2 separate regions of the Homo sapiens genome follow, and region 2 is linked to region 1. The links come from fine-mapping of genetic effects on gene expression. A gene starts in region 1. The other region holds a variant in brackets. All regions are shown on one strand. Distances are from middle to middle.

Region 1 (8,343 bases):
TTTCTAGCAAAGAACTGAGGTCTTCTGCTAAGAGCCATCTGAGTGAGGTCCCTTGAAAGCAAGCCTCTACCCCTATTCAAGCCTTCACATGACTACAGTCCTGGCTGACATATTGGCTGGATTCATGAGAGACCCTAAATCAGCACCACTCGGCTAACTCACCCCCATATTTCTGACCTACATAAATTGGGAGATAATAAATGTTTGTTGTTTTAAACTACAAAATTGTAAGGTAATTTGTTACCCTGCAATAGATAACCAATATGCATAGGTAAATATGACTTTTTAATAAAATATCATTAGCATATTTTTAAAAACATGTTTGCTGTTTATTAATAGTCCTTTTGCTCCATATTTTCAAATATGGTTACTTGCTCTATGGAACAATAATATCTATTTTCTAGCTATACAAGAGAAAGATTTCCTTAAACCTTAAAAAAAACTCCAGCATTATCTGATTGACCTTACTTCCTGCATTATAGAACTCTTGATGGTGAAGCTTCCTATCTCAATTAGAAATGCAATTGAAGAAAAACTAAGATCAGGAAAAATGGCAAGACGCAAATAAAAAAGGAAATAATTTAAATAGGGTTAAGGGCTTTTAAAAATGTTTTTTAAAAAACTGCTACTTGGCAATCTGTCCTTAATCTTTGACTATTTTTTTATAGGACAAATATATAACTATGCAATTTTAATGCTAATGATAATAATGGTTAACAGTGATTGAGCAGATATCCTAAGAGGTTTCCATAATTTGTCACATGCCATTTTTATAACGACTGCAAGTTAATCATGGCTACTATCCTCACTTTCAGATGAAAAAACTAAGCTTCAGAAACGTCAAATAAACTGCCTGATGTCATCATACAGCTGATAAGGAGCAAAGCCACAATTTGAACACCTGCCCTTTGGACTCCACAGCCATGGCTTTTAACCATCACTCTGTATTCTATGCTATAATGCCCCACAGTGTACACCAGCTTGGGCTTTCTGTGAGATTATAGTTTTATCAAATAAAAACACATTAAGTTTATGGCCCATAGCACGTTTTAAATTATCTGGGAGACCTAGAAGAAGCTACTGATGTGCCTCATTTGCCAAGATCATTCATCATTATCTAAACTACATCTCTGGAAGAAAGAAATCTGCTTGCAGTTTATTTATTCATTCATGAATTATTTATTAAGTTCCTACAATGTGCCAAGCATTCTTTCAAAAACTGACTACACAACAATGAACAAAACAGATAAAAATCCCTGCCGTCATGAGACTTATGTTCCCATGAATAGAAAAAAGAGACAATAAACAAAATAAATAAATATACACTGGGTTATACTGTGTAAGTATATGGAGAAAAAGTGGGGGGTAAATGAGGAATGTTGGGGTAAGGGTGGCAATTTTAATTAGGTTGGTCAGAAAATAATCTTACTGAAATATAAGAATTATTACTATATACATATGAACGCTTTTACACTGTTGGGAGTGTAAATTAGTTCAAGCATTGTGGAAGACAGCGTGGCAATTCCTTAAGGATCTAGAACTAGAAATACCATTTGACCCAGCAATCCCATTACAGGGTATGTACCCGAAGGATTATAAATCATTCTACTATAAAGACACACGCACACGTATGTTTACTGCAGCACTATTTACAATAGCAAAGACTTGGAACCAACCCAAATGCCCATCAATGATAGACTGAATAAACAAAATGTGGCACATATACACCATGAAATACTATGCAGTCATAAAAAAGGATGAGTTCATGTCCTTTGCAGGGACATGGATGAAACTGGAAGCCATCATTCTCAGCAAACTAACACAGGAACAGAAAACCAAACACTACATGTTTTCACTCATAAGTGGAAGTTGAACAATGAGAACACATGGACATGGGGAGGGGAACATCACACATTAGGGCCTGTCAGGGGATGGCGGGCTAGGGGAGGGAGAGAATTATGACAAATACCTAATGCATGTGGGGCTTAAAACCTAGATGATGGGTTGACAGGTGCAGCAAACCACCATGGCGCATGTATACCCATGTAACGAACCTGCACATTCTGCACATGTATTCCAGAACTTAAAGTAAAATTTAAAAAAAGAATTATTACTATATATACATTACGCAAAAGCAATAGAATTTTTTTCTTCTTGAATTATTTAGTATATGAATAATTGTCAAAGCTCATTGTCCTGGTACCATTATAGTTCTTTAGGCAAAGTAGACAAACCACATGGGGGCCCAAATTATTAAAATGGCTATCTAAATTAATTTGGAAAAACTGGATATTTGTCCTCTTTCCGGCATTATAGCCAGCGTTTGATGTGTATATGGAGGTCTAAGCCATTCTTTTAAAATCCTTTGCTAACACAAGACATGAGATCTAGTGGAAAAGAGGATTCATTGTGGATAGATAGACTAAGAACAACTTGCAAAGAGGACCCCAGTGAGCCATAGCTATTCATCAAAAATGCTGGGCGATATTAGTAGGTTGGGCCATCCTTTCCCAGCTGCTTGGTGAATGGGAAGGGATAAGGTAGCTAATGAATGGCTTTTTTCTTCCAAGTCTGGTCACACCCAAGGTGAGAGATTTAAGAGTCAGCTCTGACCCTAGCCAGCTGTATGACCTTGGAAAAATCCACTTAACCCCTCTGGGTCTCAGTTTCCCCATCTGAACTGCAAAAGGATCATCTCTAGGAGACAGCTAACTCCTCCTTGAGCCCAGCAACAGGGTGTGCAAAGGCTTATATTTCTCATCACATTCCACAGCTGCCACCTGAACAAATTTTAAATGGAAAATTTCTTTTCTAGTTCCATTCCATGCTTATAGAACAATTTTTATAGTAATTTTATTAGCTCATTAAAATGTATTTGTGAGGGAATGCCTGATAATAAAAAATAATCATTGGCATCTTGTGAGAGTGTGACTGAAATAGCAACAAGCTGTCTTAAATTTAGTGTCCCACTTCATTTGGTCCCTGGTAGCACAGGGACCTACCAGCACAACAAACCAAAGACCCCCTCCATCTCACCCCCTCTTTGCACACCTACAGACATACACTTACTGTCCCACACCAGGACACAGACTGTAGACAGTTTGGACATTGGGAGGTCTTCCTCGCCCAGCAAAGCCACTGATCAGATCCTGCATGAAGAACCTAGTGGTATCCTTTTTCAGGGAGACCCATGGGGATTAGTCTCAATTTCTCTCTCTTTCCCCAAGAGTAACTCTCCCTTCCCACCTCTGTAACCAGTCAGAAAAGAAATGCCTGCGTGTGTCTAGCTAGACTGGCAACTAGTAAGGATCCAACTTTTTTTAAGTTTTATTTTAAGTTTTATTTTAAGTTTATTTTAAGTATTTTATTTTAAGTTTTTAAGTTTAAGGGCCAACAACAATTTATCACCTTCTCCTCTTCCCACGAGCACTCCCATTCTACTCCACACATGACTGCCAGGACAGATACCCTACCTTTCTCTTTATGACCTCCTCCCACATTCCACAGGAAACCTCTCCTACCCACCAATGCACACCAACTCATAAATGCATCCCAATATTTTACACACATCCTCAGACTATCCCCTAAAATTATTCTGTATTTAATCAACAGAGGCACCAAACCCATAAGCATAGTGATATATTTCTCAATTTTCTGATTATAATTGGTTCTTCAGTTACATTTTCTCAATCACAACTCCAAATCCTTTCAGAGGGAAAATGCTCTAATCTCACTCCCAAATTCTAACTCCTTTTATTCATTTCTCTCACTTCATTTCCAGAATCTGAAAGAATTTCTGCCTGCTACCTCAACCTAAGTATTAAATAATTCATCACACCTCACACAGAAACACACACAAACACACAGGTTTCACTACAATCAGGCTTATAGATCCAGCCTTAGTTCAGAAAAATATACACACACTAAGAAAAAAAGATAAATGAGAATTTTGTTCCATGTGTATGCATGTGCATAATTTTTGATTTATTATTGGTGTTGTTTATCTTTGTGTTTAACAAATTAACAAGGGCTTTTTTTTTTTTTTTGAGACGGAGTATCGCTCTACGACCCAGGCTGGAGTGCAGTGGCGTGATCTCGGCTCACTGCAAGCTCTACCTCCCAGGTTCACGCCATTCTCCTGCCTTAGCCTCTCCGAGTAGCTGGGACTACAGGCGCCCGCCACCATGCCCGGCTAATTTTTTGTATTTTTTTAGTAGAGATGGGGTTTCACCATGGTCTCGATCTCCTGATCTCGTGATCCACCCGCCTCGGCCTCCCAAAGTGCTGGGATTACAAGTGTGAGCCACTGCACCCGGCCAACAAGGGCATTTTGACTAAAAGAGATCAACTCAAATTCACACACACTTGTAGACACACATCTGTAACCGTAAAAGAATACAAGGTTCACAAACATACCTCATTACCTCTTGCAGCCGCTCCCTCTCTGTCTGAAGGATGGCTTAGCAATAAAAGCAGAGGAGCACAGTCCACCAAAGCAACCAAAGATCTGGTAACTATTTACCGACCTATCAAGAAAATGTTAATGGCTTTCAAATGCAAATGAATGGCCAGCTTTTATTTCCAGGATCAGAATTTTTAGTTAATTAGTAATCGTGGTCTTGCTCTAAGAAGGACATCCTTAAGACTTTTGGAAGGAAAAGCCAGCTCCCATGACCCACTCCATCCCCTCCAGGCACTGAATGTTTAATCGGTGGTGAGGACACCCTGTATGTCTGGTAAGAGAACACAGACACAATTTGTAGATGATAAAGAGCAAAAAATAAATGACCCCAGTATTCCAAAAGAGCCCTGGTCTCTTGCACTGACTCCGAATCTCTCAGGAACTCACTGACGTTTAGTAGCACAATCTGATGATTGTGATGGAAGGAAGTTGTTTTAAAAATGTTTTAAAAATAGTTTTCTTCTTTCTTCTTTAAGGTGTCCTTAAGCTTGTTTGCAGTATGGAAATCCTTTAACAGTCTGGTGACTCTTGAACTGCCTTTGCAGAACTATAAATAAGAGAAATCTAACAAGACTGACTCCATCTTGCTTCTAACCTCCCAGGCTAAATTATGTTTTCTAGGGGATTTTTTTTTTTTTTGGTTGGCTTTTTGCTTATTCTAGTACAAAGGCCAAGAAACCTATGAGAGGGATTTAGTTTATAGTTAAACTTGGAGTCAAGGGAAAATGATCCCCCTCCTTGCCTGGAGCTTAAAGGCGCATTCATAAGGCAAGGTTGGAATTATGGTAGGGGCTTAGACTTTGCTAAAGAATAGGCATAAACAATGTCCTGCCATGGCTTAGTTTGTTTTTCTATAAGTTGCTTACTGCCCCAGTCACACAACCAGTGTCACAAAATTCATAACTTCCCCAACTACCAAAGATAACATCACTGTATTGGTCTGTTTTCACACTTCTATAAAGACATGCCTGAGACTGGGTAATTTATAAAGAAAAGAGGTTTCGTTGACTCAGTTCCGCAAGGGTGGGAAGGCCTCAGGAAACAATCATGGTGGAAGGGGAAGCAGGGACTTCTTAACATGGCGGCAGGCCAGAGAGAGTGAGCAAGAGCAGGGAAAACTGCTTTGCAAAACCATCAGATCTCATGAGAACTCACCCACTATCATGAGAACAGCATAGGGGGATCCGCCCCCATGATCCAATCACATCCCACCTGGTCCCTCCCTTGACACATGGGGATTATGGGGATTACAATTCAAGATAAGATTTGGGTTCTGACACAAAGCCTAACCATATCAATCACTATTGTGAAACCTAAATAACTGGTCTTTTAGATATTTGTTAGCATTTCAGTAGACCAACAGACACCACCTAGTCTTGAGGCCAACACACACACCCCTCCTGGGAACTGACTCAGTTGCACAAAGACAGTTTTAGGTGCTCCTGTGATTTCATTCCCTGCCAATCAATTATACAAGTTCCCCAGCCCCATGCCCACCAAAGTACCCTTTACAAACCTTAGCCTTTGAATCCTGAGGGAGAGGGGATTGAGAAGTTTTTGCCTGCTCTTGTTTGGCCAACACTGTGATTATTCAACTCTTTATTTACTGCAATGCCTGCTGTTCTCATTGATCTTTTTGGAGGGCAGTGGGCAAGAAGAACTTATGGAGCTGAGACATGCTTATAAACCCCTCTTAGAATTAATTCTTAGGCCAGGTGCAGTGGCTCACGCCTGTAATCCCAGCACTTTGGGAGGCTGAGGTGGACAGATCACCTGAGGCCAGGAGTTCAAGACCAGCCTGGCCAACATGGTGAAACCGCGTCTCTACTAAAAGTACGAAAATTAGCCGGGCATGGCGGTGCGTGCCTGTAATCCCAGCTACTCATGAGGCTGCGGCAAGAGAATCACTTGAACCCAGGAGGCGGAGGTTGTAGTGAGCTGAGATACAAAGAAAATCAATTACATTGAAACACAGTTACTATAATATTTTTTAAATTATAGTTTGTGCCTCTTTAATGACATACTAACAATAAAGCGATATGTCTAATAGCGATTGCAATTTCAAAAACATGATAAGCGTAAACAATATCTTGAGATTGTTTTAAATATATGATGTGAAAGTAACTGTGACCTCTCTTGAAACCAAATTCATAGGTACTACTAACACCACTGTAGTTTGCAGCCTAACTCTAAATTTCAATTAGAATTTAGCAAAGAAAAGATATGTAAATATTTTCCCCCTCCAAGTTCACAGGCTTTCAGAATTATATCTACAAACCCCAGGTTAAGAACTTTGCTCTGTTACTAAGTGGACCTTCCTCCAAGTGGGGCAGAGTTCCCCGCTCTGTGATACTCCAAGAGTTATCTGTGAACCTGTGGTTGCCAGCTTCCAGAAAAATAAGCACAGAAATTGAAGGTAAGTGTTGAGAGACTTGCATTACAATTTGACAGAATCATTTCATGTCATTGATCTTGATAATTAAAAAATGGAGCTTGTATCTGTATATGCTTTTTTAAAATTTATTTTTCAAGTAATTTAGTTTTAATTTTACAAAAGCCACAGTCTGTGATATATTGGACAATTTTAAAACAATTGCTGTTTTACCACACATAGTTTAAAAAGTCCTGCTCAGCTACTGCTATTTCTAGGCATTTGTCTTTATGGGCTAGTGAAAATTCAGAAAAAAATCTGGGCCAAGAGACCTAAATTTATAAACCATGTATATCATCTGGAAAATACAAACAAAAATCACTATCTCTTATCACAGTCGTTTCACAGTAGACATAGACAGATAATCAAAATTGAATCAATTTATCTCTTTGAAAGTTTACTTCCTTATCCTTACTTTTCTGATTTCATGAACCATCAGTGAACAACAACCACCGTGGTAACACTGACTTACCGTGTTTCTTTGGCATCATAGAATCAAAGAATTTACAGCTAAAAGAGGAAAGAAAGGAAAACTGGCATGCATGGAGGCTGGCCGAGTGCCAAGACCTTGGGTCTGAAGCAGTGGCTCATACATGTAATCCTAGCACTTTGGGAGGCCAAGACGAGAAGATCACTTGAGCCCAGGAGTTCAAGGCCAGCCTGGGCAACATAAGGAGAACATGTCTCTACAAAAAATAAAAAAAATCAGCTGAGTGTGGTGGTCCACACCTGTAGTCCCAGCTACTTGGGAAGCTGAAGTGGGAGTATCACCTGAGCCTGGGGGTCAAGGCTGCAGTGAGCTATGATCATGTCACTGCAGCCCAGCTTGGGTAACAGAGTGAGAGCCTGCCTCAATAAAAATAAATAAATAAAAACAAGACCTTCACCTACATGATCTCACTGATGTTCACAATGGCCCCAAGGCAGCAAATGTCTAAACTGCCACCCAAATGCACATCCATCAAGCTCCTAAGACATGTGACTTGAGTTGTTTGGTATCGCCCTTAAAGAACTTTAAAAATCACTAAGCATAGCCTCCTTATTTTACAGAAGAGGAAATTGAGACCCAGGAATAGGAGGTTTGTGTGGGTGGTGACTCAGAGTTCCAGATCCGAACAGGGCAGGCCTGAATTGCAAAGCCCAGGTCTGCTTATTAACTGGGGGAGCTTAAGCAACTAAGTCTCTGATTCTGTAACTTAAATGAAGATTAAAATACTACCTATCAATAAATTTATAAACTAGACAAAATAATGTGAGTAAAAGACTTGATGTTACTTAGTAAATACTCAGTAAGTGTCAGTTACAATTAATATGATCAGTTTGCATCTGCCACAGTTGTGACAAGAGCTCAGACCCTGAATCCCCAATCCAAGGCCCATTCAAATATGCCAATCTCTCATTCGACCCCAAATCAGAATTCCGAACATAGCAGGCAGTCATTCATGTTTAC
Region 2 (8,315 bases), 110 kb before region 1:
CTTAGACCCTGAATCTAAAATAAAAGTTGAAAAAAATTTAAAAACGGAGGATCTTTCTTTAAAAAGAAAAAGAAAACCTCTTACTTAAATCAACTTAAGGACTTTTTCTCCAAATTCTGCCTCCCCAAAGAAACAGCTAGAAATTCTCTTTCACAGCCTTTCTTTCATCCAAGGTAGAGGCAAGTGGCTGGAGCTTTGTGAATGAGATATTCCTGTGAGTGACTTACATCCAGAAGAAGGTGTAGATAAGGAGGTACCATGTAAAATCCAGGATGTTGGAAGCATAGCTCGTTTCAGAGGCAGCAGGGACAAGAGACCTAGTGGCATCCTATGCTCAGTATTTGGGGTTGCGAGCTGCCAGATATGTGCTCAGGGCAGTGGCAGTAGAAACCGCTACAGGGTAACCTGGGGCTTGTCCCTAGCCACATGGCCTACAAACCTGACTCTCTAGTCCTACCGGAGTTTCAATGAGTCACCAATATCTTTTTAAAATTTTTCTTAAGCCAGCTAAAGTGGATTTTTAAATTGACATATAATTTCCAAACCATAAGATTCACTCTTTTAAAGTATACAATTCAGTGTTTTTAAAAATATATTTACAAAATTCTGAAACTATCACCACTATCTAATTCCAGAACATTTTTGCCACCCCCAAAAATAATTAGTGGTCACTCCCCATTCCCATCTCCCCCTGTTTCTGCAGCCACTAACCTACTTTCTGTCCTTATGGATTTGCCTATTGTGAACATTTCATATAAATGCAGTAATACAATATGTGGCCATCTGTGTCTGGCTTCTTTTACTTGGCATGATATTTTCAAAGTTCATCCACACCATTTCAGGTATCAGTGTCTGTTCCTTTCCATGTCTGGATAGTATCCACTGCGTGGATAGACCACATTTTGTTTAGGCATGTATCAGCTGATATACATCTAGGTTGTTGATACTTTTTGCCTGTTATGAACGATGCTGCTATGAGCTGACACGTTTTAAAATTCTGCCTGGAATATACCTAGGAGTGGAATCATGGGTCATGTGACAAGTCTTTAACTTTTTGAAGAACTGCAAAACTGCTTTCTAATGTGGCAGCACCATTTTACACCCCCATTCCTGCCAGTAATATATGAGGGTACAGAGAGCTCTTTTGGTGGCACCTAAGAACTGTAAATAACAGTGTTCACAGTAGTGAATCTTTTGTGTTTGCTTCAAATGCTCAGTATGTGGAAAAGCACACATACACACACACACGGAGAGAGAGAGAGAAAGTGAGAGAGAGAGAGGGAGGGACAGAGAGAGAGAGAGAGAAAGAGAGACTCGGTTTCTGCATTTATGAACTGCTGGAATGACATATTCAGCTTTTCATTTGCCCCAGTACAAGGTGGCCTTTGTTAGAGGGGAAATGTACCAAGATCTCATTTCAAATTGGGAAGACATCCTGGCAAAAGGTCAAGAAGGGAGATTTTATTGTTACATAAGATCTATTTTTTGTGTGATATTTTACCTTTAACTCCCCACATGCCATGCACATTTGTGACTTCATTTATGTTAATAGTGGTAACCAACAGGCCCAGCTAATCTATAACCTGTTTCCTAAAGTGCAGAAAATAGCTACCTTCACCTTCCATTCTTGCTAACTAGTAACTGGAAGATATTGAATCACCATACTGGTGTTGACCAATGAGAAAATAACAGAGCCACTTTGAAGGGTAGAGACAGGCACGTGACCCGACATCTTCCAGTTGTCTATCGGTAACAAGGCACGGCAAAGTTAGCTATTGGCGGAACTCAAACAGTTGTCACAGCAAGCTGCTGGTTGGAATCATCAGATCAGAAACTAGTAATATGAGTCACCCTTAACTTCCAGAACACCTTTCTCCAAGGCCAGATGCAAAACTCTCAGTGACTCTGCCGCTATGACAAGAACAAAGAAATATTGATGAGATCTTGAAGACATCTGCCACGGCCAACATAACCTTATCTTTGCAGGTATATATGACATTTAATGTTATAACATTAATAAGAAAGGAATAGATGTCTTCCTATTTAAGTGAAAGAGTTTGAGAGTGTTTTTTTTTTTATTTTGGCACACCTATGAAGAAAGCAAAATTATGTGATCTAAAAAACAGAGCATATGTGGAAAAGGAAGGCCCCCAGCCTCTTCCTGAATAGCTGGCCAGGAGTTGTAAGCATAGGTCCATGTTGTAGGGGCTGCTCTGGGATGGCCACAAATGGATATGGTTCCATGAGAGGTGGTTCTCAGACTGTGATCTGAGGAACAACCTCTGGGGGTATTATTGAGCGAAAGGGCTCACTCTTCGATGCGCTAGAAGCCAATACTCTGATAAAGGGTTTCGAAGAAAAGCTTTTATTGCAAAGTCGACTCACAGGACACAGGAGTCCAGCTCAAACCTGTCTTCCTGTGCTGGCTTTAAGGAAGTATTTTTATCAGAAAAGACTTAGGGGGTGGATTCTGGGATTAGCAGGTGATTGGTAAAAGAAAGAGGAAATCTAGAAAGTCCTCAGGCATGCACAGTTATCTCTTCATGCCTCATCATGGGTCTCATGTGCAAATTTGGGAGGGAGTTAGTAAGAACCTGTGGTGGAAATTCAGGCTGTGACGTCAGCAAGCTCTTTCTGCGTTAACTCCGGTAAGCCATATTGGTTCCAACAGATAATCTCTTTTTCACACATTTCTGGCTGAAATTTAGCATTTTGTTAGGTTATGAATGTAGACAACAAAACACAGTAGTTTTCATAGCACATGAGTTTGTCAATAATGCAATCACAGATCTTTCCATATTACATTATGAAATTGTAGTGGATATCTCAAAATATTGTTGATGTTGATCATTACATTGAAATTATAGCATTGTTACTTCCACTGTTGGATCTTTTCATTTAATTTGATAATGAAAAAAACACATCTCATGGGTTACTATATCATCTTTAATATTTGGATAAGTGTATCGTAATATGATAAGTTTTCTTTGAAATAGCATGCATTTTGCTTGATGCATTTAAAAACAATGTTGTGAGGAAGAATTCCGTAGGTTTCACTAGGCTGTCAGTGGGGTCCCTGACACTTCGTGTGCTCCAAAACCCCACTGGCCTCACTAGGGCCTTAGCCATCAGAATTATATAGTCAGAATGCCTCTCCTTAAGCATTCTGTGGCAGCCAGAGCCAAATTCCACCAACATATCCTTGATGGTAACATTAAATATTTTTTAAATATCAAGTAAATAACGTTTTCATCTTTGTGGCCTTCCTGAGTTTGTTAGAGGAAAGCTGACAAGTTTCCCACCTTTTTGATCAAAGGATTCCCATGGCTGCTTTTCCATATTTCACCAGTTTCCTAGTTAGCTCAGGCCCTCATCCAAATGCCCCGTATTGTGATAATTAGATGATTTAACAATATTGTTTGTCTCTAGCCTTATGCAGGTGCTGACACATGAGTGTGCAGGGAGAATGAATGGCTTCCTGGTTATAAGAAAAGAAGAAAACACAGAGAAGTAGGTTCATTCATTCCACACACATTCATTTTCAACTCATTTTCAGGTAACATCAAAAGTTAATATTCCTGTTGAACATTAATATATAATTTCCTTATCTCACATTTTAACCCTATAGAATTTTAAGCAAGAAGGTTGCAACTCCTATTTTTACTGGAGTTGGTATTTTCCTAAATATAGCAACTGCTATGATGATTAAAATAGTAATCAATAGACCCTTCCACAAACCCACATCTTATAAAAGACTCCTTGCAGAGATGTAAGAAAAAGGATAATTATAAAGGTTATCATCCTATTGGTGGATTTGGCTGTAGGTTCTGTGATGCCGAAGAGAACCAGAAAGACAAATTCATAAGAGTTTGCTAAACAAGAACCTTAACCCCAAACAGAGATTACTCATGGTCAAAATAGCACAAAATTCAAAATCACTTGCAAATTCACTTGTTTTATTTTTATCTGGCATATAAATTGCATATTTTTATGTGAAATGTGGTTGTATACATTAGAAATAAGATTTACACATTTCAAAGCACACTACTGCAAAAATAAATTATTTTTAACCTCCAAACTCTCTTTTGAGCTTTGCCTGCTCAGATCTCAATCTCACCAGTAGCCCTTTATGCTAAGGATTTCTCAAGACCCTCTTCTTCAAGTGAGTTGACTCTTCCTTTTTCCTCCCCATGAGGCTGCTGACAATTTTACATTATGTTCTTACTTAGGATCACTTTTACTATCATCTTCTGTTTCATCTGATCTTTCCTTGTGTTTGCCTTTTCTTTGCTTATCATGCTCCCCCCACCTATAACCAATTAGGTATATTATTCCTCCCACCGCCTATAACCAACTAGCAGATGTTCTTTCTGGATACTTTCTTGAGATGCTGATTAGCTTCAAGACCTGGAACTGTCACAGAAAGCTTTCTCTTGTGTATTTAACAAAAGAATGGGGTCCATTCTATGATTACAAACGTGGACATACACACACTTCATCATGGACCCAGTTCATCTTCAGTAAATGTCATATGATGAACAGTCACTACCATACTAACCACACAGAGACATTAAGGTAATGCATAGATTTTCCACACCTCCCTAACTGCCTATCCCACAGGGCTAAGGTTTAACCTTTAGGGTTCACACAAAAAACATATAACAAAATTAACAGAAATATTTCACCAATAGTGGGTATGAACAAATTAGCAACACACAATAATTTTTATGAGTATGAAGTATAAGTAGTTTCAAAGTCATTCATAGTTAGTTAGAATCTTGCTGTAAAAATTCACAGAGTGCTTATCCACGTCAATGAAGTAAAATTATGTAGGCTGATGTTTCTGTCAGTCACATCGATGCTTAATACCTGTTAGGAACCAAAGGAAAAGAATTGGGCATCCGGTGTTGAAATTTCCTGCATGCAAATAAATCAGGTGCAAGTATCCAGTCCAAATAACCCCCTAATACTTCTACATTGTATTGTCTAGTTAAAAGACTGCCTTCAAAGTTTCAGATGAGAAGGGTGTTTTCTAATTTTTTAGAGTACAAAGATTATTCAGTGGTAGAGATGGGCCTTTAAATAATTCAATATGGGCCGGGTGCGGTGGCTCACGCCGGTAATCCCAACACTCCGGGAGGCCCAGGTGGGTGGATCATTTGAGGTCAGGAGTTTGAGACCAGCCTGGCCAACATGGTGAAACCCCAGCTCTAATAAAAAT[A/C]CAAAAATTAGCCAGGCGTGGTGGCAGGTGCCTGTAATCCCAGCTACTAGGGAGGCTAAGCCAGGAGAATCACTTGAACTTGGGAGGCGGAGACTGCAGTGAGCTAAGATTGCACCAGTGTACTTCAGCCTAGGCAACAGAGTGAGACTCAGTCAAAAAAAAAAAAAATGTTCAATATGCAACCGCTGAAGAGAAACAACTGCACAAACTGGAGAGAATGCCCTCTTTTCCATTCTACTGAGGTGTTGATTTTCCTTGGCACCATCCTTCTGTTTCCTCCTTCTCCTATTCCACTATAGCACCCCAGTGTTTGCCCAGCAAGAGTCCACTATTCCTGCTTCTTCCTAGGCAGATGCTGTCAAGAAGCTTTCACTGCATGTGCCCTCATCAGCTTGCATGTCTGTCCCTGAGCTGGTCAGCAACAGGATTGGGCAAAGTCCTTTATGGTATAGTTGGGGAAGTTGTTGACAAGAAAACCACAAGTATGAGGAAATAACTGTAAAGAATGCAAAACTGAAAGAAAACTTTTGTTTCAGGCTTAATCATCAGGAAGGATTATGAAAGAAAAAAGTTCAGGAAAAAAAATAATAAGTAAGCACACAAGGAAGAAAGTTTCATTTACCATCGGGATGATAAGTGTCAGGACCACTACACAGCATTAATCCCAAGGTACAGATTTTTCACATATTTAACATTCATCTGACAAGAGCGTGTCTTGTAATCGACAACCATAGAATTACTGTGAGCCAAGCAGCACTCATGGCATAATTGTTATTGTCTGTGCCTGTGTAAGCTTCATTGCTATTACTGTGTTATGAATGGATGGGCTGAAAACATTTAAGGATTATTACAGGAAGGAATATTTAGTAAGATCAAGAAAGCACTAGGATGAAAATGTATATAAAGTGTGTTAGTGGCTCAGGAAAAAAACTTCATAGACACTAGTGGAAGAATTTTTATAAAATGCTGAATCACCAACACCTTTTGCAGTACAGAGGAAATATCTTAACCAATTTGTAACACATATTTTTCTTCTAAATAATAATAAATACAATAAACTAAATAATAAAACAGTTTAATATGAATTTAAATAGTACAATTTAAATACGATACAAGTTGGTTAAGCTATTTCTAGTGCTTCTTCACATTTAGGGTCTACCTCTTTTAAATTACGTTGAGGCAGAATCATCAATGTATCTCCACTCAACATTTTCCTCCATATTATCACTTACAATATTGAAATATATAGGTAAAACTTTATGGCTAAAGAAGTTTCAAAAACTTTCTATAAGTTTATTATAAAAATCTGAGGCTGGGCACAGTGGCTCACGCCTGTAATCTCAGCACTTTGGGAGGCCAAGGCAGGCGGATCACAGGGTCAGGAGATCGAGACCATCCTGGCTAACACAGTGAAAACCTGTCTCTACTAAAAATACAAAAAATTAGCCGGGCATAGTGGCAGACGCCTGCAGTCACAGCTACTTGGGAGGCAGAAGAATGGCATGAACCTGGGAGGCAGAGCTTGCAGTGAGCTGAGATCACATGCCACTGCACTCCAGCCTGGGCAACAGAGTGAGACTCCGTCTCAAAAAAAAAAAAAAAATTGAGTGATAAGGAAGCATTCTATCATAGTTTTGTCATCCTTTTTTCTTTCTTTGTGGCACATGAAATAATGAAGCAATTTTCACTGATGGTATCATATTTGATAAAATATGATAGTTCCAACCTGTTTGGGAAGTTGATCTCTGAGGCAGAGGTGAGGGAGTCAAGACAAAGTTTTACATAGGTTTGCAGACAAGAAGACAAACATGGAAAGTAAGAATCCAGGCCATGGATTCCAAATGATGATAAACCATGATTTTTCATTCATCTCCACGTGGTCCATTCCTAACACATGGAAAACTCAGGGATTCCCGGAGGGCCTGGCAGGAGAGGGCATCATTTGGAAGGGAAGCAGTCAGGCACTGCACTAGGCATATTAAGGGTGGAGAATACCATTCGCACTTTTTGCTGGTCACAAACCTGTGTCGTGGGGTCATTGTTGAAGGAGGGTGTTATGACCATGCCACTCACAGAGATGCTGACACTGGTAACGGGGACACTGCCCACTCCCCAGATTTCAATGTAGCCCAGTTTCAAAGGATTTGTACCAGTGATGTAATTGTTGAAAATTATATGGCTTTGCATCGTATTCTGTTGAATTGGAGATAAAAGAAAAATATAATAGCAGAATTAGTTCAAATTTTTCTAACCTCTTTTTAGGCACAAATGTAGGTCATAAAGTAAGACAACTTCAGAGTCACCATCTTGTAACTTTGGATCATGGAAATCATGATTTCATCACTCTATGGCCTATTGCCAACTCCCATCCACTTTGCATTGACAAGCAGCTACAGGGTCTTTCGCACTGCCCTGAACTCTACAGGAGACAAAAAGTCTCAGCTGTTAAGATACTTATATTCTACAGGTGGAGGAATCCCAAAATGTGCAGACCATTCCAAGGCAACTCAGGAACAAGGGCTAGATAACAGAAACTGCCCGTCCACCTGTAACATGGTAAACTAGAATAATGATCATTACTGATGAGATGTGGATAGGTTTAATTGCAGAAAGCCTCCTGGGAGCATAGTAAATTTCCACCGGAAGTCTAGAGAAGTAGAAGAATGTGAATTAGCAAGATGAGCAATGAAGAAATTCTAGGTGGTATTTTATGCCCTTACGATATTCAGCACCCTCCTAAGCCAGTGGAACCCTATTCTCACTTCATATCAATCACACTCACCTGGCTGGCAGAAAAGCTGGCCAAGTAATAGAGTCCTTTCCCATAGGTATCTGCAAACAAAAAACAAGATAAACATGGCCTGGACCTGTGCTGTAGAACTCTATGCTATAGAATATATAAATGCTGTTCTAATTGCCTACTTGTCTTGTTTGAGAGAGTAAGGCTTATCTTTGTTTTTATTTCTGTCTTTTGAGTGTTCTATTTTAAAATGTAAGTGCTCTTTATGGAGACTAATCAAACCCTGCACCCACACTCAGTTTACACAAAATGCTTGAAATGAATGTGTATAGACACATCTGTCTGACAGAGTCA

Evidence for each region. PIP is the estimated chance that this variant, and not a neighbour inherited with it, causes the effect.
Region 2: its variant is fine-mapped to the expression of MGAM in whole blood (TOPMed, PIP above 0.99).

What each region holds. Positions count from the first base shown.
Region 1 is chr7:141,992,004-142,000,346 of GRCh38, reverse strand. It overlaps MGAM (maltase-glucoamylase), which reads right to left and starts at 4,468. Exons shown (of 71, transcript NM_001365693.1): 1 at 4,417-4,468. RefSeq lists an enhancer at 4,269-4,770.
Region 2 is chr7:142,102,368-142,110,682 of GRCh38, reverse strand. MGAM (maltase-glucoamylase) reads right to left here. Exons shown (of 71, transcript NM_001365693.1): 69 at 8,004-8,053; 70 at 7,244-7,414; 71 at 3,936-4,869. The coding sequence ends at 4,792. Among named protein-coding and RNA genes, the nearest start is that of MGAM2, 5.2 kb to the left of the region's middle. The variant A/C (reference allele first, on the strand shown) is at 5,222.